Homo sapiens: one gene and its partners. The protein of the gene in region 2 purifies or fractionates together with the protein of the main gene of each other region. This does not show direct contact. Each region holds a gene or a part of one and is shown on either strand. Other genes may lie near its edges.

What was found.
Region 1: the proteins of ECH1 (region 2) and SLC9A6 fractionate together in Homo sapiens (co-fractionation; one large-scale study listed by BioGRID). This does not show direct contact.
Region 3: the proteins of ECH1 (region 2) and ADCK5 purify together in Homo sapiens (co-immunoprecipitation; one large-scale study listed by IntAct). This does not show direct contact.
Region 4: the proteins of ECH1 (region 2) and PGM2 fractionate together in Homo sapiens (co-fractionation; one large-scale study listed by BioGRID). This does not show direct contact.
Region 5: the proteins of ECH1 (region 2) and FAR1 purify together in Homo sapiens (co-immunoprecipitation; one large-scale study listed by IntAct). This does not show direct contact.
Region 6: the proteins of ECH1 (region 2) and SLC25A12 purify together in Homo sapiens (co-immunoprecipitation; one large-scale study listed by IntAct). This does not show direct contact.
Region 7: the proteins of ECH1 (region 2) and NEK9 purify together in Homo sapiens (co-immunoprecipitation; one large-scale study listed by IntAct). This does not show direct contact.

The regions. Positions count from the first base shown.
Region 1 is NC_000023.11:135,991,659-135,995,456, forward strand, and holds part of SLC9A6 (sodium/hydrogen exchanger 6), read left to right. Parts: intron 1-3,127; coding exon 3,128-3,327; intron 3,328-3,798. UniProt on the Homo sapiens protein: Endosomal Na(+), K(+)/H(+) antiporter. Mediates the electroneutral exchange of endosomal luminal H(+) for a cytosolic Na(+) or K(+).
Region 2 is NC_000019.10:38,825,101-38,828,898, forward strand, and holds part of ECH1 (delta(3,5)-Delta(2,4)-dienoyl-CoA isomerase, mitochondrial precursor), read right to left. Parts: intron 1-3,798. UniProt on the Homo sapiens protein: Isomerization of 3-trans,5-cis-dienoyl-CoA to 2-trans,4-trans-dienoyl-CoA.
Region 3 is NC_000008.11:144,383,856-144,387,653, reverse strand, and holds part of ADCK5 (uncharacterized aarF domain-containing protein kinase 5), read right to left. Parts: intron 1-3,798. UniProt on the Homo sapiens protein: The function of this protein is not yet clear. It is not known if it has protein kinase activity and what type of substrate it would phosphorylate (Ser, Thr or Tyr).
Region 4 is NC_000004.12:37,843,430-37,847,227, reverse strand, and holds part of PGM2 (phosphopentomutase), read right to left. Parts: intron 2,865-3,798; coding exon 2,675-2,864; intron 1,596-2,674; coding exon 1,498-1,595; intron 298-1,497; coding exon 117-297; intron 27-116; coding exon 1-26. UniProt on the Homo sapiens protein: Catalyzes the conversion of the nucleoside breakdown products ribose-1-phosphate and deoxyribose-1-phosphate to the corresponding 5-phosphopentoses.
Region 5 is NC_000011.10:13,666,980-13,671,539, reverse strand, and holds the start of FAR1 (fatty acyl-CoA reductase 1), read right to left. Parts: upstream 2,873-4,560; 5' UTR 2,734-2,872; intron 1-2,733. UniProt on the Homo sapiens protein: Catalyzes the reduction of saturated and unsaturated C16 or C18 fatty acyl-CoA to fatty alcohols. It plays an essential role in the production of ether lipids/plasmalogens which synthesis requires fatty alcohols.
Region 6 is NC_000002.12:171,891,359-171,895,684, forward strand, and holds the start of SLC25A12 (electrogenic aspartate/glutamate antiporter SLC25A12, mitochondrial), read right to left. Parts: upstream 2,887-4,326; 5' UTR 2,857-2,886; coding exon 2,845-2,856; intron 1,901-2,844; coding exon 1,847-1,900; intron 1-1,846. UniProt on the Homo sapiens protein: Mitochondrial electrogenic aspartate/glutamate antiporter that favors efflux of aspartate and entry of glutamate and proton within the mitochondria as part of the malate-aspartate shuttle.
Region 7 is NC_000014.9:75,120,251-75,124,048, forward strand, and holds part of NEK9 (serine/threonine-protein kinase Nek9), read right to left. Parts: coding exon 3,796-3,798; intron 925-3,795; coding exon 869-924; intron 331-868; coding exon 260-330; intron 1-259.

The DNA of each region.
Region 1 (3,798 bases), on a different chromosome or scaffold from region 2:
CCTATGGCCTCCTTGTTGCCAAACCCAATGGATACTTCTAATGCCTGCCTTACTCGACTTTACTATAGCATTTGATAGTTTTTATCACTTCCTTCTCCTCAAAAATGAATTTTTTCCCTTTCTTCCTGACTTTGCCACCACTGGTTCCTTTTTTTTTCTACTCCTGTGGGTTTTCCTTCTCAGACTCCTTCATCAGCTCCTTCTCCTCTAGCAGCCCCTTAATGTTGGCTGTTAATAGATCAAACCCCAGATCTATATCATAGTCTTCTTCCCATTTTACTTGCTCCCCTGGCGATCTCATCTACATCTGACTTCAACCATCTTATGACTGCACAGTGTATATCTCCAGTTGAGACCCCTCGCTTTAGCTCCAGATACCACATACTCAACTATGCGTGTGTCACAAGTACATCCAACTCAACGTGTCCAAAACTGAATGTAGCCTTTTCCCCTGTAAATCTGTTCATCTGTGTATGTTCCTTACCTCATTGAATGTCCTTGTTATCCCCCTCGGTGCTCAGGCCAACTTACCCACCTGGTTACCAAATCAATTAAGGTTCCTCTTAGTCTTTCATCTCCCTTCCTCAGTCACTAAATCTTCCTAAAATATAATACCTTCAAAAAATCCTTCTCGCCTCCTGTCAGTACTCTCTTAGGTTAGGACCTAAACTCTTATTGCCTGAATGCCTACAGTAGCCCTGTATCTAGCCTTTTAGACCCTCTTTAGTCTAGACCAGTCTTTCTAAAGTAGAAATCTGCTATCAAGCCTCTGCCTTCTATGACTTCATTTTACTTTTGGGATAAACTTCAAATTCCCTTCCCCAACAGATAAGATCTTTTATGATTCAACTCCTGCCAATCTTTCAAACCTCAACTCTTGTCACTTTATAAGCCAGCCATACTAAACTACTTGATTCACTGGATGGGCTGTGTTGTCTCCATCCTTGACTGATATGTACTACTATTCCCCTACGTGGAATATACCCATTTCTTCTAGTTTGTTACCTGCCCAGGTGACATCTCTGGAAAGACTTCCCTAATGTCTTACTCCCCCAGGGTTGCATAGTTGTCTCTTTTCTGTTTTTATAATACCTTGTATACATATATATATATAGCATTATGATTGTTTATTCAGTCTGTTTTCACCAACTGGACCGAGTTTTCCTTGACATTATGATTGTTTATTCAGTCTGTTTTCACCAACTGGACCGAGTTTTCCTTGAAGGAGGGACCTTGTTTTCATCTCTGAACCCTGGAGGCCTACCTAGCATAGTACACTCATTCACGTATTAAAAGAATGGCTGGCTAGTCAGAATGAAAGGCAATAGGAAGGTAAAATGCAGCTAGTAGTGGTATACTATGCATGGAGTTAAGGAAAGTTCCAGAAGTTTGGGTTTTATTTGTAGTTGAGGTATGTCCATACAATGAAATATCGTTTGGTCGTAAAAGTAAATGAGGTTCTGATGCATGCTACAACATAGATAAACCTTGAAAATATGCTAAGTGAAAGAAGTCAGACACAAAAGGCCATATATTGTAGGAGTTCATTTATATGAAATGTCTAGAAAAGACAGGTCCATAAAGAAAGAAAGTAGATGAGTGGTTGCCAGGGGCTGTGGATTCGGGCATGGGGGAATGGAGAGTGACTGCTAGTAGGTGTGGGGTTCTTTTTGGAGGGAAGGAAAATGTTCTAGAATTAGATAGTGGTGATTGATGTTCAACTTTGTGAATACACTAAAGACCACTGAATTGTACAGTTTTTAAAAGGATAAACTTTTGGTGTTTGAATTAGATATCAGTAAAGCCATTACTAAACAATTATAGTCGATCAATATAGTTTTATAGGGCTGGGCATGGTGGCTCAGGTCTGTAATCCCAGCAGTTTGGGAGGCCGAGGTGGATGGATTACAAGGTCAGGAGTTCGACCTTGGTCAGGAGCCTGGCCAACATGGTGAAACCCCATCTCTACTAAAAATACAAAAATTAGCCAGGTGTGTTGGTGTGAGCCTATAATCCCAGCTACTTGGGAGGCTGAGGCAGGATAATTGATTGGACCCGGGAGGCGGAGGTTGCAGTGAGCCGAGATCATGCCACTGCACTCCAGCCTGGGCAACAGAGCAAAATTTCGTCTCAGAAAAAAAAAAAATTTAGTTTTACAGTACCTAGAACATTGTGCATATTTGAATGTCAGTAGGATGATCCAGCAATCTGTTTGATGTCATAGTGCCAGATTCAGGACTTCTATTCCATGTTTTGATTTTGAAGCAGATTTTTAAAATTAAAATCTGATCTTTTAGAAGTAGAAGAACTCAATCAACCTACAAATATTATTGACTTTTCAATTTGTTAAATGTGCATTGTTTGGCCAGTCATGTGCTTTGGGAATAAACTTGCGAAGTGCATTGTTTAAGTCTTATAAATTGATGAATGGAGGTGAAAAACAAATTTCTTTTTTTTTTTTTTTGAGACAGGGTTTCACTTTGTTGCCCAGGCTGGAGTGAAGTGGCATGATCTCGGCTCACTGCAACCTCTGCCTCCTGGGTTAAAGCAATTCTCACACCTCAGCCTCCTGAGTAGCTGGGATTACAGGCGCCCGCCACCACGCCCGGCTGATTTTTTGTATCTTAGTAGAGTTGGGGTTTCACCAAGTTTCCCAGGCTGGTCTCGAACTTCTGAGCTCTCAGGCAATCCACCCATCTCGGCCTCCCAAAGTGCTAAGATTACAGGCATGAGCCACCGCGCCTGGCCAGAAAACACATTTCTAACACGATTGCACTGTCGAGTTGGGACACATTGGAGCATATTCTGTCTACAGATGATTTGAAGATATTTTCTCCTTTTGTTACCTTCCTCATTACTTATTTAAATATTGATCTAGAAATGCAGTGATCTGTGCTGTTGTCCTAGGGAATGTTTTTCTCTCCTGTTTCACTGGATTATATGAAGATTGGGCTGTTTGTTGTATGAATTTAGTAATATTTTAAAACATAACTGCATTTCATCTAAAAATCAGTTCTGAGCTACAGGGAACTACCGTAAGAGATTTTCTCTTATCCATAGTTATGCGTGGGGTACAAAAGAAGTGGTCTCTGTCGGCAAGAAGAGCTTATGTTGTTCTTTTTTCCAGGTCTTTTGGTGGGCCTTGTGCTTCGGTATGGCATTCATGTTCCGAGTGATGTAAATAATGTGACCCTGAGCTGTGAAGTGCAGTCAAGTCCAACTACCTTACTGGTAAATGTTAGTGGAAAATTTTATGAGTATATGCTGAAAGGAGAGATTAGTTCACATGAACTCAATAATGTTCAAGATAATGAAATGCTTAGAAAGGTAAGTTCTTAAAGGAAATCTTTGAATCTTTTTTGTGTCTAACTAGCAGCAAAATGATCCAGGAGAAAATAAGTAATGGATTTTTAATGATATTTAAAATAATGAGTCTTTTTCAATGGAGTAAAACCTCAATTAACAAATGTAATAATGTAAGGAAATGGATATGTCTGTACAACTCATTTTCTGATTGAGGTTAAGTAGTATAACTCTTTTTGTTTCTCTCTGGATTGTTTACAGCTTGTTGTGATAAATGGAGACTGGGATTGAGTTAAGCAGAATTTATAAGCGTTTCTTTCCATTTGCAGATGGTCCTTATAGTTTTCTTTTTCTTTTTCTTTCTTTATTTTATTTTTTCTGAGATGGAGTCTCACTCTGTCACCCAGGTAGAGTGCAGTGGCATGATCTTGGCTCACTGCAGCCTCTGTCTCCTGGGTTCAAGCAATTCTCCTGCCTCAGCCTCCCGTGTAGCTG
Region 2 (3,798 bases):
TTTAATGAAAAGAATGCAGCTTTAGCTGCAGCCTGAGAGTTTGGAGATACCTGGAATCTTAATCAAGTAAATGATAGAATGACACCTGAAGAAAGGGACAAATTCCCTATCGGTCAGCAAGCCATCCCCAGTATGGATCCCCACTGGGACCTTGACTTAGATCATGGGGACTGGAGTCGTAAACATCTGTTGACCTGTGTTCTAGAAGGACTAAGGAGAATTAGAAAAAGCCCATGAATTATTCAATGATGTCCACCATAACTCAGGGAAAGGAAGAAAATCCTTCTGCCTTCCTCGAGCAGCTATAGGAGGCCTTAAGAAAATATACTCCCCGGTCACCCGAATCACTCAAGGGTCAATTGATTCTAAAAGATAAGTTTATTATCCAATCAGCCGCAGATATCAGGAGAAAGCTCCAAAAGCAAGCCCTGGGCCCTGAACAAAATTTGGAGGCATTATCAAAACCTGGCAACCTCAGTGTTCTATAATAGGGACCAAGAGGAACAGGCCCAAAAGGAAAAGTGAGATTGGAGAAAGGCCGCAGCCTTAGTTATGGCCCTCAGACTAACAAACCTTAGTGGTTCAGAGAGGACAGATAGTAGAGGCCAATCACCCGGTAGGGCTTGTTATCATGCGGTTTACTAGGACACTTTAAAAAAGATTGTCCAATGAGAAACAAGCTGCCCCCTCGTCCATGTCCACTATGCCGAGGCAATCACTGGAAGGTGCACTGCCCCAGCGGACGAAGGTTCCCTAGGTCAGAAGCCCCCAACCAGATGATCCAACAACAGGACAGAGGGTGCCCGGGGCAAGCGCCAGCTCATGTCATCACCCTCACTGAGCCCCGGGTACGTTTAACCATTGAGGGCCAGGAAACTGACTTCCTCCTGGACACTGGCGCGGCCTTCTCAGTGTTAATCTCCTGTCCTGGACGACTGTCCTCAAGGTCTGTTACCATCCGATGAATCCTGGGACAGCCTGTAACCAGGTATTTCTCCCACCTCTCAGTTGTAATTGGGAGACTTTGCTCTTTTCACATGCCTTTCTTATTATGCCTGAAAGTTCCACACCCTTATTAGGCAGGGACATATTAGCCAAGGCTGGAGCTATTATCTACATCAATATGGGGAACAAGTTACCCATTTGTTGTCCCCCTACTTGTGGAGGGAATCAACCCTGAAGTCTGGGCATTGGAAGGACAATTTGGAAGGGCAAAAAATGCCCGCCCATTACAAATCAGGTTAAAAGATCCCACTGCTTTTCCTTATCAAAGGCAATATCCCTTAAAGCCTGAAGCTCATAAACGATTACAGAATATTGTTAAACATTTAAAAGCTCCAGGCTTAGTAAGGAAATGCAGCAGTCCCTACAACACCCCAATTCTAGGAGTACAAAAACTAAATGGTCAGTGGAGACTAGTGCAAGATCTTAGACTCATCAATGAGGCAGTAATTTCTCTATATCCAGCTGTAACCAACACCTATACCCTGCTCTCTCAAATAACAGAGGCAGCAGAATGGTTCACAGTTCTAGACCTCAAGGATGCCTTCTTCTGTATTCCCCTACACTCTGACTCCCAGTTTCTCTTTGCCTTTGAGGATCCCACAGACCACACGTCCCAAATTATGTGGACGGTCTTGCCCCAAGGGTTTAGGGATAGGCCTCATCTGTTTGGTCAGGCACTGGCCCAAGATCTAGGCCACTTCTCAAGTCCAGGCACTCTGGTCCTTCAATATATGGATGATTTACTTTTGGCTCCCAGTTCAGAAGCCTCGAGCCAGCAGGCTACTCTAGATCTCTTGAACTTTCTCGCTAATCAAGGGTACAAGGTGTCTAGGTCAAAGGCCCAGCTTTGCCTACAGCAGGTCAAATATCTAGGCCTAATCTTAGCCAGAGGGACCAGGGCCCTCAGCAAGGATGGAGAGGGAGGACAGGGAGGAGAGGGAGAAGGAGGGGAAGGAGGGGAAGGAGGAAGGGAGGAGAGGGAGGGAGGGGAAGGAGGAAGGGAGGAGAGGGAGGGAGGGGAGGGAGAAAGGGGAGGGAAAGAAAGAAAGGGACCTGGGAATATGTTAATGGACAAAACAGAAAGAAATAGTTTACTGTCTGTCTTCCCCACTGAGTTGGGAACGCCATGACAACAGGGCCTGGGACTGTCCTAGTCAAGACTGGGTTCCCAGCACCAGGCTCTGGGCCCTGTGCAGAAATCAGTGTATGAAATATTTTGCTTCTGGTTCAGTCCTAAAGGGCCAACCCTCCCACGGACAACTACATACGCTGGCTGGACAAGAAACAAACAATTATCTGAAGGCACTGGGCAGATTCTGGAGGGAGTGACCACTTAGGAGAGTGGCAGAACACTCTCTCGGTGTTTTTGAAAATGGTTTTGAAAACTTTCAGCCTGAGGGCAGACTGAAATTGTGCTTGAAGAGCCACAGGATAGAGTCCAAGGTGACCAAAGCTGCCGGGAAGTGAGGGGGGATATTCCAAAGAGGGGAGAGCCAGAGCGAGGAGTCCCGAATTCTGTGTATCAACTCTGCCCTAATCTCTTGCTGGGAGATGTATGTTTTTGTTGTTGTTTTTGTTTTGAGATGGGTTCTTGCACTGTCACCCAGGCTGGGTGCAGTGGCACGACCACAGCTCACTGCAGTTTTGACCTCCCTGGTTCGAGCCATCCTCCCACCTCAGCCTCCAGAGTAGCTGGGAGTGTGGTCATTCATCACACCCAGCTAATTTTTGTTAGAGACAAGGTCTCAGTGTGTTGCCCTGGCTGAAGATTAGTTTTTAAATCTTTTGCTGGGGGTGCATGTATGGTCTGTAAATCAGCAAGAAGCCAGGCACAGTGGTTCACGCTTGTAGTCCCAGCACATTGGGAGGCCGAGTCAGGAGGATCGCTTGAGTTCAAGAGTTGAAGACCAGACTGGGCAACATAGCAAGACCTCATCTCTACAAAAAAATAAAAATAAAAACAGAAAAACCAAAAAAACTAATTCCAACTAAGCTACCAAAACACGAAACTCAACACTCTTTGGAACTATATGATAGAATCCAGAGTATCCACATCTTATTCCTATATCCCAATATCCAAGAAACAATCCAAACTAACTCAAAATACAAAGAAACAGGAAAGTGAAGCCGTTTTCTTTTTTTTGAGACAGAGTCTCGCTCTTGTCACCAAGGCTGGAGTGCAATGGCGTGATGTAGGCTCACTGCAACCTCTGCCTCCTGGGTTCAAGCGATTCTCCTGCCTCAGGCTCTCCAGCAGCTGGGATTACAGGCATGCACCACCACGCCGGGAAAATTTTTGTATTTTTAGTACAGACGGGGTTTCACCATGTTGGCCAGGCTAGTCTTGAACTCCTGACCTCAAGTGATCCACCCACCTCAGCTTCCCAAAGTGCTGGGATTACAGGCATGAGCCACTGAGCCCAGCCTGCCATTTCCAAGCGAAAAGATGATAAGGAGACTGACCCCAAGATGACCCAGATGTTGAGATTAGAAGATAAGGAGTTTTTGTTTTGTTTTTATTTTGTTTTTAGAGGGAGTCTCGCTATGTCACCCAGGCTGGAGTGCAGTGGCGCCATCTCGGCTCACTGCAACCTCTGCCTCCCAGGTTCACGCCATTCTCCTGCCTCAGCCTCCCGAGTAGCTGGGACTAAAGGTGCCCGCCACCATGCCTGGCTAATATTCTTTTTTTTTATTTTTAGTAGAGATGGGGTTTCACCATGTTAGCCAGGATGGTCTCGATCTCCTGACCTCGTGATCCGCCTGCCTCGACCTCCCAAAGTGCTGGGATTACAG
Region 3 (3,798 bases), on a different chromosome or scaffold from region 2:
ACAGATGGATCACTTAAGGTCAGGAATTCAAGACCAGCTTGGCCAACATGGAGAAACCCCATCTCTACTAAAAATTAAAAAAAAATTAGCTGGGTGTGGTGGCAGGTGTCTGTAATCCCAGCTACTGGGGAGACTGGGGCTGGGAGAATTGCTTGAACCCAGGAGGCAGAGGCTGAAGTGAGCCAAGATGTTGCCACTGTACTCCAGCCTGAGTGACAGAGCAAGACTGTCTCAATAAATAAATAAAGAAACAAACAAACTGCTGGGTGGAGGAGCAGTGAGAACAGACACATCATCTCAACTGCCTCCATACGGCTAATTACAAGGGAATCAAATGGGGGAAACCGAAATCATGTGCCCCCGGCAGGACAGAAGCAGTGTCACTCCTGTGTGATTCCTGCCAAAACAGATGACGAATATGACCACAAGCAAACATCAGACAAACCCACACTGACAAAATAAGAAGCAGTGAAATATTTCTGTAAAAGATGAGATGGTAATTATTTTAGGCACTCTGGCCACGCATGAGCACATGGGCAACTGTGCACCAAGTGGTCACAGGCAATGCATGGGCATGGCTGTGTTCCAATAAAGCTTTATTTGCAAATCAGACAGCTGCCACACTAGGCCCCTGCACTTGGCCCAGGGACCACAGTTTGCTGACTCTTGTTATACAATACTTACAAGCCTGTAATCTTCAAAGGTGTCCAATCATGTGCAATGAAGAATTAACTTTACCCAAACAGAGGACTGACCTTTGTCCCTTCTTAAGTCCTTGGGATTTCCTGAGTGATAAGGAGTGCCTCTGTTTTCCATGGTGGCCCTGAGGGCTTATGCTAAGAAGGGACTCAGGGCGAAGACCCACCACTTTGGGGCCCACGGGGATGGGAGCGGGAGGACCGGGGCTGGAAACTGAATTCCTGGGATTTTCTGAGAAACTGGAGATTTTCAATCAATCCCGCCCAAGTATTAATACCCCAACAAAAACTCCAGGCATGGCCTGCGTGGTGGCTCATGCCTGTAATCCCAGCACTTTGGGAGTCCGAGGCGGGCAGATCACTTGAGGTCAGCAGTTCAAGACCAGCCTGGCCAACATGATGAAACCCTATTGCTACTGAAAATACAAAAATTAGCCGGGCGTGATGGTGGGCACCTGTAATTCCAGCTACTCAGAAGGCTAAGACAGGAGAATCGCTTGAACCCGGGAGATGGAGGTTGCAGTGAGCCGAGATCCCACCATTGCACTCCAGCCTGGGCAGCAAGAGCGAAACTCCATCTCAAAAAATAAAAAAAAATAAGTTAAATAAAAAATTAAAAAATTTTAAAAAAAAAGTTAAATTTAGTTCAGGTATGATAGCTCACACCTGTAATCCCAGCCATTTGGGAGGCTGAGGCAAACGGATCACCTGAACTCAGGAGTTCAAGACCAGCCTGGGCATCATGGCAAAACCCCATCTCTACTAAAAATATAAAAAATTAGCCGGGCATGGTGGCGCGCACACCTGTAGTCCCAGCTACTCGGGAGGCCGAAGCATGAGAATTGCTTGAACCTGGGATATGGAGGTTGCAGTGAGCTGAGACGAAGCCACTGCACTCCAGCCTGGGCAACAGAGTGAGACTGTCTCCAAAAAATAAAAGAAAAAGGGGCGGTGGGGGAAAGCAAAACACATAGGTGATTTTTTTTTTTTTTGAGACAGAGAGTCGCTCTGTCACCCAGGCTAGAGTGCAGTGGCGTGATCTTGGCTCACTGCAAGCTCCGCCTCCCGGGTTCACGCCATTCTCCTGCCTCAGCCTCCCAAGTAGCTGGGACTACAGGCAACCGCCACCAAGCCCGGCTAATTTTTTGTATTTTTTAGTAGAGACGGGGTTTCACCATGTTAGCCAGGATGGTCTCGATCTCCTGACCTCGTGATCCACCCACCTCGGCCTCCCAAAGTTCTGGGATTACAGGCGTGAGCCACCATGCCCGGCCACATATAGGTGATTTTATTTTTTATTTTTATTTTTTGAGACGGGTCTGGCTCTGTCTTCCAGGCTGGAGTGCAATGGCGTGATCTTGGTTCACTGCAACCTCCGCCTCCCAGGTTCAAGTGATTCCCCTGCCTCAGCCTCTCAAAGTAGCTGGGATTACAGGCGTGAGCCACCGCGCCTGGTGGTGATTTAAGTTTAGGGCCAGGTGTGGTGGCTCACACCTGTAATCCCAGCACTTTGAGAGGCCGAGCTGAGCAGTTCACCTGAGGTCAAGAGTTGGAGACCAGCCTGTCCAACATGACGAAACCCTGTCTCTACTAAAAATACAAAAACTAGCCGGGCGTGGTGCCACACACCCGAAATCCCAGCTGCTTGGGAGGCGAGACAGGAGAGTCGCTTAAACCAAGGGAGCACAGGTTGCAGTGAGCTGAGATCGCACCACTGCACTCCACCCTGGGTGACAGAGCAAGACTCCGTCTCAAAAAAAAAAAAAAAAGAAAATGTAAGGAGTGGCAGAGATTAAAGACAGGGCTCTGAGGCAGAGAAACATTGTCCCAAACCTTCCACCTTCCTGGGCAGCCCCTGATCATTTGGGTACCTGTGGCCTGTTCTGACCTCTGCTGCCTTTTCTCATGGTGCACTGGCACCGCCATGCTCCTCACCCGCGCTCCTTCCTGGGCCCCTGCATGGGTGCTGCTGTCACCCAGGATGTGTTCCCAGGCTACCCTGTGCCCTGCCAGGGAAGCTCCACAGGCCTGCTTGTCTATGCAACCGTGACGGCTTAGAGCCAAGGAGAACGTGCAGACTGCTGGGAAAATTAACAACAGAGGTCCCTCCCTGCAACCCCAGCTCAGCCCCTGAGAGCGAGCTGTGAGAAGATGTTTTCCCACAAAGTGAGCCCAAAACGCAGGCTCACCAAGCCGGTGGCCGAGGAGGTGGACACCAGACACAGCTGCATGCCATGAAATAGAGGGTGAGACAAACCCAGGCCTGCCAAGCCGACATTTCAGAACCAGGCTGCAGGGGACGGTGGCTGGCAGCCCTGTGTGGCCCTTGCATGCACTGCAGCGGAGGGTCACGAGAAAAAGGCAGAGGACCCGAGGCTCTGTCGTCACCCACCCCAGGCTGCGAGACTGGATGGCCCTGCAAGACAGACAATGCCACCCAAAATCTGCAGGCAGGGACAGCAGGAACTCCAAGCAAAACCAGATGCCAGGGAGACCCACGTGGGGAACGACTGTTTTGTCTTTTAGGCTGAAAATCCTCAGGTGCCCAGCTATCCACAAGCTTCCACTCACTGCTGGAGGAAATTTCTGTGAAACTTCTGGTGAAATCTCTGAAGGCACCAGAAGCCGAGGCACTTGCTGAGAAACTGACCTAGGCCTGGCAGATGCTCGGAGGCAGGCAGAACAGGACCACACCCTCCCTGCCTCCTTCCTGCCCTGACGCTCCATTCAAAAGGGCTTTGGGGGCTGGGCACGGTGACTCACGCCTGTCATCCCAGCACTTTGGGAGGCCGAGGCGGGTGGATCACGAGGTCAGGAGATCGAGACCATCCTGGCTAACACAGTGAAACCCCGTTTCTACTAAAAATACTAAATAAATAAATAAATAAATAAATAATTTAGCCAGGCATGGTGGTGGGCACCTGTAGTCCCGGCTACTCAGGAGGCTGAGGCAGGAGAATGGCGTGAACCAGGGAGGCGGGGCTTGAGTGAGCCGAGATTGCGCCACTGCACTCCAGCCTGGGTGACAGAGCGAGACTCTGTCTCAAAAAAAAAAAAAAAAAAAAAAAAGGGCTTTGGGCTAACAGGTTTCTCTCAAAGC
Region 4 (3,798 bases), on a different chromosome or scaffold from region 2:
ATCCACTTAAAGCCAGTTAATGTTTCCTAAAGGGATAATCCAAAAGAGAAAGACATGCCTTAGATCTTCTACAGAGCAGATGAAAGGAAAATGAGTGAGTCCCAGAAACACCCTACCTCAAAATGAAAACCTTCCTTTAAGGCAATGGCCCGCAAGATTTTGGAGGAGACGGTGCTGGACAACATGTACGTGTCTTTGAGAGCACTGCGATCCTGGTTCTTCTCTTTCCAAGATGTAAAAAGCCACCAGCCCAGGAGGGCCCCCAACTCATTGCCTGAAAACACCCTCCATTCACCACTGAAAGAAAAAAAAAACAACAACCACCATTCATTTCCATAATCTTAAGGAAGACTCTAAAGTGTCATGGGGATAAAACAATTTAGCAAACAAAGCATCTAAGTATTTTCTGCAAGGCTGTTCTTGTTATTCATCATCTTTAAATAACTGGTCAGAAATGTAACTGCCATTTTACAAACATCTGAGCAGCTACCATATATATCAGCCAGTTTGCCTGAACAGACATCCTGTCTTTGAAGACTGTATAAAATAAGTATGTCACACATGACACACAATGGCTCTATATTAATCTTTGGCAAAGCCTTTGGTTTTAAATATAACAAATATGCTGGCAAGATCCCCCATATATAGAGTAAGTTTTGCTATCTCAATTTCTGGACTGGTCAGTATTGCTGATTCTGAGAGGGGACAGCTCAGTACCCCTTAAGATCAAGCTCAGTCCTAAATGGTCAGAACATCAGAGAAAAGATGTGTAATTTCTGCTTCTCTTGGCAGTCCAGATGGCTAGAAGTAAATCTCACCTATCAGGACGTATCATCTTAGCTTAACTTTCTCAACACTGATATAGAATGGAACCTGTTTTATCACAATCTGAAAACCCTACCATTTCAGCAGCAGCACCCTCCTGCCCCCAAAACATCACATAGGCTACCTGACGCCCAAAATTGCTTGGGCCCTGCCTACCTTTCAACTTTAGCCCCACGTACTTACTTCTCCTTTGTACAAACTCTCTGGTCAGACTTGTCTTAAACACTGTGCCGATACCCCACAGGAATTCCTCCCTGGTCTGTCCAAACTAAATTCAGCATCTCCTTGAAGGTACTGCTCCCTCCTAAACCCCTCAGCAAATACTGAAGCATACAGCTAGCACCAAAGTGCTTTACCCTCATTAGACACTGAGACATTACTTATAAAAAGATCAATTACAAAATGAGAAGTTCCCAAATAGGAGTTTCAATTTGAAATATATACTGGGTTGATTTACTCTGCATTATGCTTGCCAATCACGTAACCTCCCCCCACACTAGATCTCTATCTTGCTCTCCATTAGAAGACTCTACAGGAGGTTCAGTGAAATGATCATTTGCAAAATAAATGGGAAATGTTTCCAAATAGGTCCCGTCTCCCCAGAAACATTTTACCAATGAAGAGATCATCCTTTATATGTTCTATAATATAGGTAATCACAATTAATTTTACCTGTCTTGCTTTTCTGCCACAGCAAGTCTATCAGCATCCGGGTCGTTAGCTAAAACAATTCTGGCCTTGGTTTTGTCAGCCAAAGCAAAAGACAAAGTCTGAAGAAGAATATGAAAATAAAAGATTATTTAATCAAGAATCGAGCATATGATAGTCTTTAAAAACATTCAGTTCCTTAAGAACTCAAGAGGTCTTTCCCCTCTTAGAAAGATAATATAGGACCAACCAAGACAGCTCCAGAAGTGAAATTTAGCAAACAAAAGCTGCAGCTGGTCTTGGTTGGTCACATAGTATCTTCCTAAGTCAGAGGTCAGATAATGGGAGCATCGGTGTGTGACCCAAGCCTACCAGTGTGCCTGCTGCACATGCGCCAGTAGGTCTGTGGTTGGACTGGTATTTCGGGGCATTGCTGTGTGATCAGCCTCACAAATAAAACAAAATAAACTGATTCTCTGAATGCCACTGCTACCCCAACCTTTAAAAATGTTACAGAAACCATAATGTAAGCAACACTTCATATCAGAAAAATGACAAGAAATAAAAATCATAACCTGCTAAAGTTTCACTCTATTACTGCTTCTTTTTGGCATTAAGGAGACACGGCAAATTAAATTAAATTAAATTAACTGAATTTGAAGCACCATTTAGAGCTCAGTTCTCATATCCTGATCCTGGGGTGTTTAATTTGAAAGATCCTTTAAGAAATTAATGACTAACAAATATACATACTTCTTGTTTTTTTTTTTTTTTTTTTTGAGACAAAGTCTCGCTCTGTCACCCTGTCACCCAGGCTGGAGTGCAGTGGTGCAATCTCAGCTCACTGCAACCTCCATCTCTCAGGTTCAAACAATTCTAGCGCCTCAGCCTCCCAAGTGGCTGGGATTACAGGCATGTACCACCACACCCAGCTAATTTTTGTATTTTTAGTAGAGACAGGGTTTTGCCATGTTGGCCAGGCTGTTCTCGAACACCTGACCTCAAGTGATCTGCCTGCCTTGGTCTCCCAAAGTGCTGGGATTACAGACATGAGACGCTGCACCCAGCCAAACATACATATTTCCATGCTGAAATTAGTTTTTCTTCAGCACAATGAAAACACATAAAAATGTATTTTACTTGACAGTAATAGTTTTGAATATAAAAGCAGATTTCATAATTTAAAAAAAAATTAGGTTACCAAGACACCTTTCCCCTCTTCGGGATTCGGGTATTTCACTGTTGGAAACTCAGGATCCGGATCTTTCTGTTCAGGAACAGCCTCAGGAGGAACAAGGTCAAAAGCCTTGAAAGCTGACTGCACAAAGCTATGACCCACCCCATGGACAGAGGTGTGCACAAACTTCACCTTTGTCTCCCTGTTCACGCTCCTAGAATCAGATACACAGTGGAAAATGATACAAGGCAGAAACAGGGCTCTCAAAACTGCAAGGTTTGCAAGAATGCACAAGACAACTGAACATCTTTCTAATTCCATTTCAGAAAAACAAAACGTATCCATTCTCTCCCAGATATATATATTCCTTCCCTCAACATACTCAAGTTTTAAATTCTACTCTGTAGTTATTTTCAGCAAATCTGATTATTTCAGGTTTTGTTTTATGCATCCCATCTAGAGTGAGATACAAAGAAGAACCTCAAGCTCATGTTCCCACACGAGACTCACTGCTGGCCTGACAGGTGCCCTGACAGTGCTACAGCCAGCCCGGGACAGTTCCAGGGCTCCACACACCCACACATCCCCAAAGCGACAGGTTCCCAAATGTCTTTTATCAGCTTCAGAAATGATTTTCAAAATGTCCTTTTTAACAAAATGTGTTGGGTTATCCCATACATAAAGATATAAAAAATAAAACTTTTACTTTGGGAGGCCGAGGCAGGTGGATCGTGTGAGGTCAGGAGTTCAAAACCAGCCTGACCAACACAGAGAAACCCCATCTCTACTAAAAATACAAAATTAGCTGGGCATGGTGGTGCATGCCTGTAATCCCAGATACTTGGGAGGCTGAGGCAAGAGAATCGCTTGAACCTGGGAGGTGGAGGTTGCAGTGAGCCGAGATTGTGCCACTGCATTCCAACCTGGGCAACAAGAGCGAAACTCCGTCTCAGGAAAAAAAAAAAAATAATAATAATAAATAAATAAAACTTTTTGTTTGCCAAGTAACAATCCTGTTTGATACCATGCCATGACTTAGGGACTTTATACAGACTAACAACAGATACCAAAATTAACAGGAGAAGTTACAGAAAAATAAAAGGCTTTAAAAACTTCCAGTGCTCTGATGGCTGGAATCTTAGGTTATT
Region 5 (4,560 bases), on a different chromosome or scaffold from region 2:
CTACCTCTCAATAACCTTACTTTCACTTCATTCTCCTATAACTATCAAATATTTTATGCTCTTTCCTTTACTACCTATCTCCAATCCATTATCAACTGTTAATTTTCTCTCCTAACCAACATAAAAAATTATTTATCAGCTAAGCTGCAACATAGCCTTGGTTGATTTCCAAACCCCTAAATCTTCATTCGAATCTTCAATCATCCTTAAAAACCATTTTTAATTTGTCACTCTTGTCCACAGTTGCTTATACCAAGTACAAACTACTGGAATGTCATCCTCATGTCTTGTAATAACCCACATCCCAACTTCTAGTTCACATGATGGCTCAAAACTCACCTCTTTCAGGAAACCTTCCCTGATTCACTCCACGCCACTCAGATTACTTCTCTACTGCAAGTCGCCTCAGCACTTAGGTATTGTTATACTAAGGGCAAATGTGATCACAGTAAACAGCATCACTAAGAAATCGCTTTCACAAAATTGTTTCTAGATCATAAATAATGGTCCATTAGTTAAAATGCTTTGCTGATCTGGTTAACAAGCAAACATGTTACACAGCAAATGCTCTCTTTGGCTTCTGTCCTTGACTCTATAACTCTTCACAAACCTTTTGTCCTATCCTCAAACAGAAACTCTATCTCCCATTTAAATACACTGGAAATATGGTAGTGGGCCACCTTCTTTTCTACTACCTCTTCTCTGACCTCAGTCTCTGCCTCCAGCCTCTATCCACACCCCATAAATAAAAATTCCAAAAGCTTCAAATAGAATAGCAGTGATGCATACATACCATGTCTTTCCTGAGTGAAAAAAAAAAAAAAACCCTCAAGCTACTTAGCTACAAAATTCTTCACAAGGGTAATAAATTTCCCAACAAGCCTAATACATAATCAAACTCCAGAAAATTTATGTGGAATTTTTATGGATAAATTTATGGAATAATTTTGGCCGGCGCGGCAGCTAACGCCTGTAATCCCAGCACTTTGGGAGGCCGAGGCGGATGGATCTCTTGAAGTCAGGGGTTCGAGACCAGCCTGGCCAATATGGTGAAACCCCGCCTCTACTAAAAATACAAAAATTAGCCGGTGCGGTGGGGCATGTCTCTGTAGTCCCAACTACTCGAGAGGCTGAGGCAAGAGCTGATCACTTGAACCTGGGAGGTGGAGGTTGCAGCGAGCCAAGATCGCGTCACTGCACTCCAGCCTGGGCAACAAAGCGAGACACACACACACAAATTTATAAAATAAAAACAAAACAAAACAAAAATTATAAAATAATTTTATGGAAAATGTATGGAATAACAGGGCCTGGGTGGGGTGGCTCACCCCTGTAATCCCAAGCCTTTGAGAGGCCACGGTGGAAAGATCTCTTGGGCCGAGGAGTTTGAGGCTGGAACGAGCTATGATCTCGCCACTGCACTCCAGCCTGGGCGACAGCAAACCCTGTCTCTGTTTACTTTTTAAATTAATTTGAAAAAAATACATCAGGATTGTACTTATACGTTAATTCTCACTTGTATTACTGTAAGAGATCTTGCATCATTTTTATGCTATATTACACATGCCCAACATGACAGCTGAGAAACTCCCCTGGAGGGCAGATTTTCTGAGAGTATCTTCTGATGTTGTCTTTAAACCAACACTTTTTTTTTTAACATAAAGAATTAAGGGATTCCTGACTGCCATCTAGTCAAAAGCAAACAATATGTATGCCATTACTTCGGAGGGAGTGAGTTCTTGTGCTGCTGAGGCAAAACGAGATGAACTGTCACAGGGATGGCAGGAGGGGTGGAGTGTAGGAGGAGGATCAGCCCCAGTAGTGAGAATTAAAAACTCTTTTGAGTATTTGGCCCTCCACTAGCAGTAAATTAACCTTCAAACCTGACCAAGACACTACCTGAGACCCTCCACTCTCCGACACCGCAGAATCAGACAACTGTTCTTGCTCAACTACTCATAAAAGATTCACAGCCTTCACCTACCACACATAAATCTACCGCGTTTGCTGCTTGTATACTTTGTCCTAACAGACCAACTAATGCCTTCTAGTCCAATAGCCTCCCGTCCACACCTCACATAAAACCTTCTCAGCCACCTTCCGGTTTCAGTAGGTGCCTCTTACTCCAGATCCACGTGTCCCCAGTTCTCCAGAGACCTTCACCTTCAAAACCCAAGCCCGTCCCCCCTTCACTCCCAGCTGATCTCCACCCAGGCCCTATCAATCCTTACTTCTAATAGGCCAACCACACTCCCCGGCCCCGCGCCTTCTCCCTCAGCACCCTTTTCTGAGCATCACCTATTTCCCACCACTTTCTTCCTCCCCAGACCCGGAATCCTGCAATCACTAGGCCTCCCTTTGCCGCTACCCTCCCGCGAGCACGCGGAGCCCGCTGCTCGGCTAACCACCCCGCCCCACCTTCGCCACCTCTAGCGGCCTCCCACCCCAGGCGGCTCCCCGGGCTCCGCGGCTGCAAACCAGGCCCCACCGTACGTCCCCCACGCGGTCCCGGCCCTGTGAAGGGCGGCGGCGGGGCAAAGAGGGGCAGAGACCACCCGGGGTGAGGCGGGCGCCCTCACTTCTGGGCGTACCCGGGCGGGGGCGGGGGCGGGACGGCTGGTCGGCGCCCCCGCCTCGGCCAGGCCTGCAGCCCGAGCTCCCGCAACCACTTCCCGAGCCAGGCGAGGAGGAGCCCGCAGCCCGGCCGCTCCCGCTGGCGCACCCCCTTCTCACCTAGACGCAGAGGCTCAGGCCTCGCTCTCCCACTGGCCGTCCAGCAATAGCTGCGCCGCCGCCGCCGCCGCCGTCGCGCTCTCTTCACTCGCTTTTCCACCGCCCGCGACCGGCTGCTGAAGAGCGGACGGGCAGTGGCACGCCCATTGGCTGAGGCCCGCAGTCGCGTCAGCCGGCCCCGACCGCACCTCGCGACGTGACTGGCTGGAGCGGCGCCTCTTTTCGACATCCGCTTTTGATTGGCTCTCGCGCACACCCTTATCCGCAGGACCAGTCATCCTCCTCCCTGCTTTAGCCTCTCACCCCCAACCCGGTTTCCCTCCGGGCGGGAGTGGGGCGGGAGCGGACGCCCGCGGAACGCGAACGGCCAATGGGGGCGCGGAGAGAGGGCCGGGAGGTGGGCCCTGCGGCCGGGAGGCTCGCGGGGGAATGCTCAGCCAATGGGCCCGCGCCCCACATCTCGAGTCCTGGAGCGCCCCCGCCGGCTGCTGGCGTCCTGTCGGGTCGCGCCCAGGGCCACGCCCGGCTGTCCGTCGCGCGGGAGGGGCGCCAACTCCCAAGGTTGGGAGCACGCAGCGAGGCCCGCGCGGGAGACAGCGGGGCTGCCATTGTGGCGTGCTTAGCGCTATTATGGTGGGGCCCGGGGGCCCTCCGGCCATTGCTGGGCGTGAGGGATCCGTTCGGAGAACTACCAGCTTGGCGGGTGTGGCCCGGGTCGGTGAGAGCGAAGAGCTCTACGGACCCCTGGAGCCTCCACGGGTCTCGCCCAGTCCCAGGGGACTGTGGGCCCATTCATTCCACCTTCCACTTCCTCCAAAATAATTCCCTACAAAACTTACCGGTAGTGATAGGAGTTAGAATAACGTTTACTTCTGAGGGGTGGGGCACGAGGGAACCTATGGAAAGCTGGAAACATTGCGTCTTGATCCTGGTGGTCGTTCCGGGCTGTGTACACATGGAGGAATTCATCGAGCCGGACACTTAATAGTATTACCACATTCATACGGCTCATTTTTAAAAAATAATAAAAGGATCATGAGAATTCTGTAATAATATTACCACAATCTTTGGGCTCCGTGGGACTCCATTGTATAAACAGTCCGCATTAGGATTTAGCTGTCATTCAAAACATGCAAGCCATAGGAAGAAAAAAAAAGATTTGTGAGAAGCAAAAATGAGTGAACGCTCTTGGCACGGTGAATAGCATGCACAGGTTGGTATTTAGGGATGGATGGCTCAGAGTGATTTTTCTGTGGGGATTTAGAGCTTGTTTCAGTGCCTGGCCCTGTTAGTAGCTAAAAGCAGTCATAGTGCTGCATCCAGTTGGAAACTACAAAAGCTCACTGAACTGCCTACTTTGTGGCAGATGTTAAGTTCTGGCTCAGGAAACTAATTTGAATGCCATGGCTTCTGCCTCGATGAGCTCACAGTCTTGCAGCAAGTACTGTCATTTCTGGAGGAGGGCACAGAACACAAAGCTAACACACTTGCTTACCCTCAGGGATGTCGCATTCCGCTACTTTAGGCAAGACAGTGTATGCCTGGAACCCATCCAGTCCAATAGCCATAGTCATAAATAGCCAGGATCAGGTGAAACACTTCTTAGAAGTGGGTCAAAATATTCTCCCAAAACAAACGTAAGAACTATGGACCAAATTCTAATCTGTAAAAGAACACAAGCAACAAAACAAAGATTACAGTATTCATATTTATTAATTTAGTCATTAAGTTGTTTAAATCAGGTAAATGCCTTTATTTAAAGTGCTTGTCACTACACTAGGCATATAAACTTGGATATGACAGTATTCCACAGAACATAGGGTTTAA
Region 6 (4,326 bases), on a different chromosome or scaffold from region 2:
CAACCCACCTCTACCCCCACTCAAAAACAAAAAACAAATCCATACAGAATCACAGTATATTTTTTTCCCATAGAATTTTTAAAGCTAGAAAGACCTCAATTCCCATTCCTTTATGTCCCACTGAGTCCCACATGAGAAGCTGAAACTCAGGAAGGCCAGATGATTAGCCTAAGGGTACAAGAACCAGATAAATGCAGGGCTGGGAATTAACTCCGTATTCCTAGGCAGTACTCAGATACCTAGGCAGTATTCTTTTCACTACATCATGCAGCATTTCAACTCATTTCTTCCGCATCTACTTAGTCTAGAACATAAAATTAACTATATCACATGAACTCTTCACAAAACAATTGACTATAATCACATGGTATGGTGAATACCGATATATTTTTGGCTATTTTCAAGAATGCCTGCAAGGAATAAAGGTTTCAAGTCATAAATGGACCATTTCTGTTATTATAATTACTTCTGTTCTGGAAAAAAATACTTCCCTTATCAGATATTATGACCTTTAAGATTCCCATTTTCACAAATTATTTTTCATAAACTACACATATGTATGCTCAACTACGCAGCGTCTTACCCAACAATAGCTTAAGCAAACCACATATCTCAAATAAAAATGTCATCTATTCCAGGCTCATCAGCATATGTTAGAATCTGTTCCTAAAATAGACTCATAGACTTTTGGAATGGGAAGGAACCTTGGAGATCACCTCTCATTTCACAGAGGAAAATAATACACAGCAGGGACCTGCCCAAGGTCAAAGTGTCTTCATAAGAACCCAGGTCCAGAATAGAAAGTTCTCAAAAGATTTCAGAGAGAAATGCAATATTTGGTGAAACACCTTAGCTTGCCTCCCTTTACATCTACTTTTTTTTTTTTTTGAGACAGTGTCTCTCTGTCCCCAGGCTGGAGTGCAGTGGCACGATCTCGACTCACTGCAAGCTCCGCTTCCCGGGTTAACGCCATTCTCCTGCCTCAGCCTCCCGAGTAGCTGGGACTACAGGCGCCCACCACCACGCCCGGCTAATTTTTTGTATTTTTAGTAGAGACGGGGTTTCACCGTGTTAGCCAGGATGGTCTCGATCTCCTGACCTCATGGTCCACCCGCCTCGGCCTCCCAAAATACTGGAATTACAGGCGTGAGCCACCGCGCCCGGCCTACATCTACTTCTTAAGTACAATTTCCTGCATAGGAAACTTTTGAAATTTAAGAAAAGAAAGCAAAACAAAAAACTAAGCCAACCTTTTTTTTTTCTTTTTTCTTTTCTTTTTAAGTCTACAGCCAAGTCACTGATTCTAAAAGCTTAGAAGTTAAGGTAGACCATTGCAAGAATCTTAAGAGGTAACATTTTGGGGTAAAATCCCCAAGGCTTAAGGATACAATGTAAGTAAGACACACAAATTAAGAATAGCTATAATATTCTTATCTCTGTAACAAATTACATGGAGGATAGCTCATAAGTAGGAAAACTTTGTAAACATGCAACTTTCAAGGAAGAGAATTTTAGTCATCATACCTATTAACTATACAAGAATGCCAATACATTTTGAAATTTTATCTTGGTCTCTGTGCTTAAGCTGGAAATTTTTTTTCAAAATATATATCTTAAGTCATGTAAAAAAAAAAGCAGTAACTTGAGGAAAACCTTTTATCGACCCTTAATTAAAAGAAGGCCTTAAATCAAACCTTATTAAGAGAAGTATAAGCTATATTGTCCGGTCATGTTTGAAAGAATACATGAAAACTGAACATTCCTCAAAGTTAAGGCATGAATAGGACTAAGGACATGTACGTTTTTTGTTTTTGCAATGAAAGGCACACTATGCAAGCCAATTTACCTGTAGAAATATGTTTCTTAACTCATGAGGATCCCCTCGCTTAGTTGTCTGCACCTGTAAGCAAAAAAGAAAAAAAAGCCAGTTAATGCTTCACTAGAGACCACACAATCTCTTCAGATTAGAGGTCACATGGCTAACAATCAATGCTCCTATCTTTTATCATTTAGTTTAAAACAAACTAAAAGCCCTAATTGCTGATAAGAACTGTCAAACTGGATAACTGTGACTAGAGGGCAGAAAAACAGGTGCGAATAGCCTAAGATACAGCAAAGCTATCGGACAGTGCTTCCTCTGGACTGGAAAGGGAAGGCAATGAGGATCTTTTACTTTATTCCACATCTACTAGCAACACAGTAGTAACCACCCACCTTCAAATCAAGAAGCTAACAAGAGTAGATCAACAGGAAAGTTAAATCACCCAAATTAATCACTTGGCCTAGCAGCCTTTCTCCATAAAAAGCAAACCCAACATGTAATTATCTCCGCGTCCCTCTCCCCATCCAACCTAAAATATGAGAGCTGCCACAAATACAAATACTTTCCATACCCTGCAATCTGCAACGCAAAAGCCAACCACTGCCCTCGGCCTTATTGAGGCCCCAAATTACTCAATACTTACTCCCTCCCCCACCGCAATTCACTGATACCCTAGGTATCCCCAGCTTTACTTGCCACTTCCTCCCACACCCTTTCTGATGCCCTCCAACTCCGGACTCACAATCCCATGCACCTAGGACAGGACATTACTCTTCCTTCACTGACCCGTGTTACCGTACAAGCCCCTTCAACTCACAATCCCTCCTCCTTCCCCTCCCCCAGCCGGGCATCCCCTCCTCCGGTCCAAGCCCCGCACAGCTCTCCCCGCAGCAAGCCGGAGCCCCAGGACAAGCTATCTAAGACCTAGACAATGAATAAAATGGGAAGCAGTGGGGGGCTGCAGGCAGGGCGCTCGGAATGTCTCTTATGCAATAAAAGCAGCAGCAGAGAGTTGGAGTCACCTTGACCGCCATGCTGTGCTCGGAAGCCGGGGACGAGCGAGTGAGCGAGCAGGGCCGAGCTGTCAGGGCGCGCGCGCGCCGTCTTCCCGGCCGCGCCCGCCCTCCCTCTCGCCGGCGCCGCGCGCGTCCCTATGCAAATGAACTCGGGGCGCGCCGCGTGCGGAAAGGGGCCCGGCGTCCCGGCCAGAAAGGCAGCTGGTCCAGGGCCGGCCGGCCGGGCGGAGGAGGGGGACGCGCCTCCCACGGGGAAAACAAGCGCGACCCATGGGATCCCGACGCGCCGCGTGGTTGCCACAGCTAGGTCGCCGCCAGGAAAGCCCCAGGTTTCCTAAGGCCTCTTAGTGGGTGTGGCTTTGGGCACCGACCAGCCAAAGTCGTTTTCCCCGAGGCTTAAAGGAACATTTGGGGCCTATACTGAGCAAGGTTCCGACGGATCAAAGAGCACTTCCCATTAATAACAATGAATTAATGACAACTGATGGCAAATACCGACAAAACAAGATTGGGAACCACTCACTCTAGGGAAAACCTACGTAAACATAATTTGAGAAATATGCTCCTAAATTGGCATGGGACGAATACGCTGAATTTATTTTTGCTTTGCGTGCTATTACAACGGTTTATTAGTAGACTCGCTCCACTTTCCTAATCACCCAAATCCTGTGTGCAATGAGAAAAAAAACTCTATGTGTCTTTGACAGGGCTGGCAATGAATCGCTTGCCCATACATGAACAGAAAGTAATTCTCCATTCGATTTCTAGCCCTACCTAAGAAGTAGAAGAAGCAGTAACTCTATCTTGAACCAAAACAATGTTTCTAAACCCGTCTTGCCAATATCACTGTATTAGGCTACATATTGATTCAAACATGTATGGGCATCCATTATATGCCTGACATGGTCCTGCTTGTAAAAAACGCAAATAACCTATAGCCCCCACCCTCTAGGGGCTTACAGATGGTCAATGCTTCTCCACAACCCCAATCACATGTGTATTGTGTGTATGTGTGTCTGTGTGTGTGTGTGTTGAGACTGAGTCTCGCTCTGTCGCCCAGGCTGGAGTGCAGTGGCACCATCTTGACTCACTGCAACGTCCACCTCCCAGGTTCAAGAGATTCTCTTGCCTTGGCCTCCCGAGTAGCTGGGATTACAGGCACCCGCCGCAATGCCCAGTTAATTTTTTGTATTTTTAGTAGAGACAGGGTTTCACTATGTTGGCCAGGTTTGTCTCAAACTTCTGACCTCTGGTGATCCGCCCACCTCGGCTTCCCAAAGTGCTGGGATTACAGGCGTGAGCCACCGCGCCCGACCCTGTGTATGTTTTCATTTTTAATTTTTTGAGACGGAGTCTCGCTCTATCGCCCAGGCTGGAGTGCAGTGGCGCCATCTTGGCTCACTGCAACCTCTGCCTCCTGGGTTCAAGCAATTCTCCTGCCTCAGCCTCCCAAGTAGCTGGGATTACAGGTGCACGCCACCATGCCTG
Region 7 (3,798 bases), on a different chromosome or scaffold from region 2:
CAAACTGAACTCTAAAATTTTTGTCTGTAAAATGACTTCAGTAGTACTTGGCTACTGAGGAGACTCTTCCTAGATCATAAACATGGTTTAACCTCAGGGAGTGAAAATAATATTGCTCATTACTTTCCTTTCCTAGTGATATCAATGGAAAAACTCTTGGCTGCTTAACCAAGAAAATAAAAGTGTTGTTGGGGGGGTATCCACGGTAGGGGCTGAATTGGTAGGGAAGAATCCATCCATAATTTTTTTTACTTCTTACCTATGAAGGATTCCAGCTTTATGGATGCAGCTCACTGCTGAAACAATCTGAAATAGGTACCACACCACCATCTGCAGAGAAAAAATAAATATTTGGATTAGAAACAAAAAGCTCCATTTAAGTAAATACACACACACATAAACAAACAAAACAAAGAAAACTGCAACCAGAAGTTATGATTCAACATGACTTGACATCTCTTCCTTGCAGGTTGAGTAGGCAAAGAAAAGTGAAGGGGTAAAAAACCACAAAAAACAGGTTCCTCATAAAATAGTTCCAATGTCATTATAATATATAGTATGGTAAAGCAGACATGTAGGAAAATTCAGGAAGAATGCAAAGTTATAGAAAACTGGGCATACCAGTACGCAGTAATAGAACCAGGAAAGAAAGCCCACAGAGAATCATGATGTGGAGGTAAAACGTTTAGGAAGCAGCTATAGACAGCTTCCTTGTTAGAGGTTTCCTTTCTCATGAATATCAGAGCCTGGAAGGAGTCTGAACAAAAGGAAAAAAACACTCTTCACTATTGGAAGAGTAAATACAGAACTAGAATGCAAGAATTACAACACTACAATTCTAACTTCCTTCCACAGAAATATGAATTACCTCTTCCTCAAACAACTTGTCCTTCTGACGAAGGATTTTGTCATACAGGTTCCCTCCTGCAATTAAACAAGACACAGATTTGAATTGCTTAATACAGATCAAAGCTTGGCTCCTGTAACAGGTTTTTTTAGGTGACACAAGGAAATGAAGGATTCTGCTTTCTCTCCATAGGCAACTACTTCTTTTGACTTTTCACATGGGCACAAAACTCTTCCCATCTCTCAAGGACCGCATCAGAAATATTCTTCAAAGATCTCCCTCTCTAACACAAGAGGCGTAATTAAAAAAAAGACATTTTTAGAAAAGATGTGAGTAAAGACCATTCTTGTTGTTCCCAACAAGTGAAGTATATTCAAAATCAGATTTCTTTTCTAGAACTCTCCTTTAAGGACTCTACAATATTTTTGTAACAACTCTCCCAGTTGTGACTACTATAACATCTGGATTAGGCTGGGCACATTGGCTCACGCCTATAATCCCAGCACTTTGGGAGGCTGAGGTGGGCAAATCATTTGGGTTTGGGAATTTAAGACCAGCCTGGGCAACACGGCAAAACCCTTGTCTCTACCAAAAATACAAAAAGTTAGCCAGCTGTTGGGGCATGTGCCTGTGGTCCCAGCTAATCAGGAGGCTAAGGTGGGAGGGTCGCCTGAGCGTGGGAGGATCGCCTGAGCCTGGGAGGCGGAGGTTGCAGTGAGCTGGGATCGCACCACTGCACTCCAGGCTGGGTGACAGTGAGAGTCTATCTCAGGAAAAAAAGAAAAAAATTGGGTTACACCTGTGATGCAATGTTTTGTATTTATAGGGTATATATTGACAAATTTTCTACTTCACACCGAAATATTTCCCAAAATTTAGGGTCTACCCCTAGACTGTTTCCTATCATTACTCTCTTTACTAATTTCTTCCTGTGGAATAAGTGTGAATTTACTTCTCTCTTTCCTTTACCAAGTAATACAGACTGCAAGTAATCATGGTTCATCTTACATCCCACCTGCAACTATAACTTACACTTTAGCCCTGGGTAAGTTTTTACAACTTCTTTTCCCCTGCAACTTAATAACTCAGTTTCAATAAATGTATCATTTGTTCCAGTTCTTCCTAACCACAAAAGAAGTTAACTACCTAGGGCTTCTGCTACTTCGAAAATTTTTAACAGAATCTTGTATATGGCATTGATCACCAATGATCATAATATACAAGAGTTTACACAAGGAAGTCGTAAGTGACGAATATGCTGGGACCTCTTTAGCATGCAGTTCAGAAAAGGGCTTTGGAGGTTCTCCTGTGCAATAAGATGATTAACAGCTAGTACAGTATGTAGCAAACACTTTCTACCTACCAAGCACTATGCATGTAATACAACAATCCTAGAAAGTAGGTACTGTTATCAACAAACTTTTTTTTTTTGAGATGGAGTCTCGCTCTGTCACCAGGCTGCAGTGGCATGATCTCCACTCACTGCAACCTCCAACTCCCTGGTTCAAGCGATTCTCCTGCCTCAGCCTCCCGAGTAGCTGGGATTACAGGCACGCGCCACCATGCACAGCTAATTTTTGTTATTTTTAGTAGAGACTGGGTTTAACCATGTTGGCCAGGATGGTCTCGATCTCCTGACCTTGTGATCCTCCCAAAGTGTTGGGATTACAGGCGTGAGCCACCACGCCCAGCTTTTTTTTTTTTTTTTTTTTTTTTGAGACAGGGTCTGGCTCCATCGCCCAGGCTGGAGTGCAGCGGTCTGAGCTCACAAGCTCACTGCAACCTCTGCCTCCCAGTCTCAAGCCATCCTCCCTCCTCAGCCTCCCAAGTAGCTGTGACTACAGGTGCACACCACCCAGCTAATTTTTTGTATTTTTGGTAGTGACAGGGTTTCACTATGTTGCCTAGGCTTTCCTCAAACTCCTATGCTCAAGTGATCTGCTTGTCTTGGCTTCTCAAAGCGCTGGGATTACAGGTGTGCACTGTCCCTGGCCAACAAACTCATTTTAAAATGACAAAACTGCTGGGCATGGTGGCTTAAGCCTGTAATCCCAGCACTTTGGGAGGCGGAGGTGGGCGGATCACCTAAGGTCAGGAGTTCGAGACCAGTCTGGCCAACGTGGCAAAACCCTGTCTCTACTAAAAATACAAAAATTAGCTGGGCGTGGTGGCGCATGCCTGTAATCCCAGCTACTTGGGAGGCTGAGGCAGGAGAATTGCTTGAACCCAGGAGGCGGAGGTTGTGGTGAGCCAAGATGGCACCATTGCACTCCAGCCTTTACTCCAACAAGAGTAAAACTCCATCTCAAAAAAAATAATAATAATAATAAAAATAAAATGAGGAAACTGAGGCACAGAGAAGTTAAGTTTCTTGCCAAGGTTATAGAGCTAGAAAGTAGAGAAACTTGGTTTTAGAGTCTATTTTCTTAACAACTAGGCTATATTGCTATCTTACAAGCAAAATGATGTGAAGAAATCAGGGACCAGATAAATAGGGCCATGCTTTACTATATATTACTTTCACTCAGTTATGATCTTTGGACCACTTTTCAATAGGATAGCTTTAGCTGAAGACAATATAAATAAATATCACCTATAAGATCTTATTAAATACTGTATCAAGTGCTGCCAAGCCACACTCTGGTTAACTAATGTCATTTCATAAAGAAAAACCTTGAAAAATAAAGGTAAAATCCAACCAAAGAAAAGATAGTTTGAAAATGGAACTGTAATCACAAGAGAAAATTTGGGTATGCAGGGGAAAATCCCTCTCCTTATTTCGTACACCACTTCAAAAATTCTCCAAGGCCTGAAAAGTTTCTCTTAAACTCTAGAAATTCATTTAAAGTTTTTATCACTGTATATGTCTCTTCTTATATTCTTCTCCTCAACGTAATTATGAGTCTAAGAAAGTCTTGCTGGAAAAGTCCCACTGAACTCTATCTTACCAT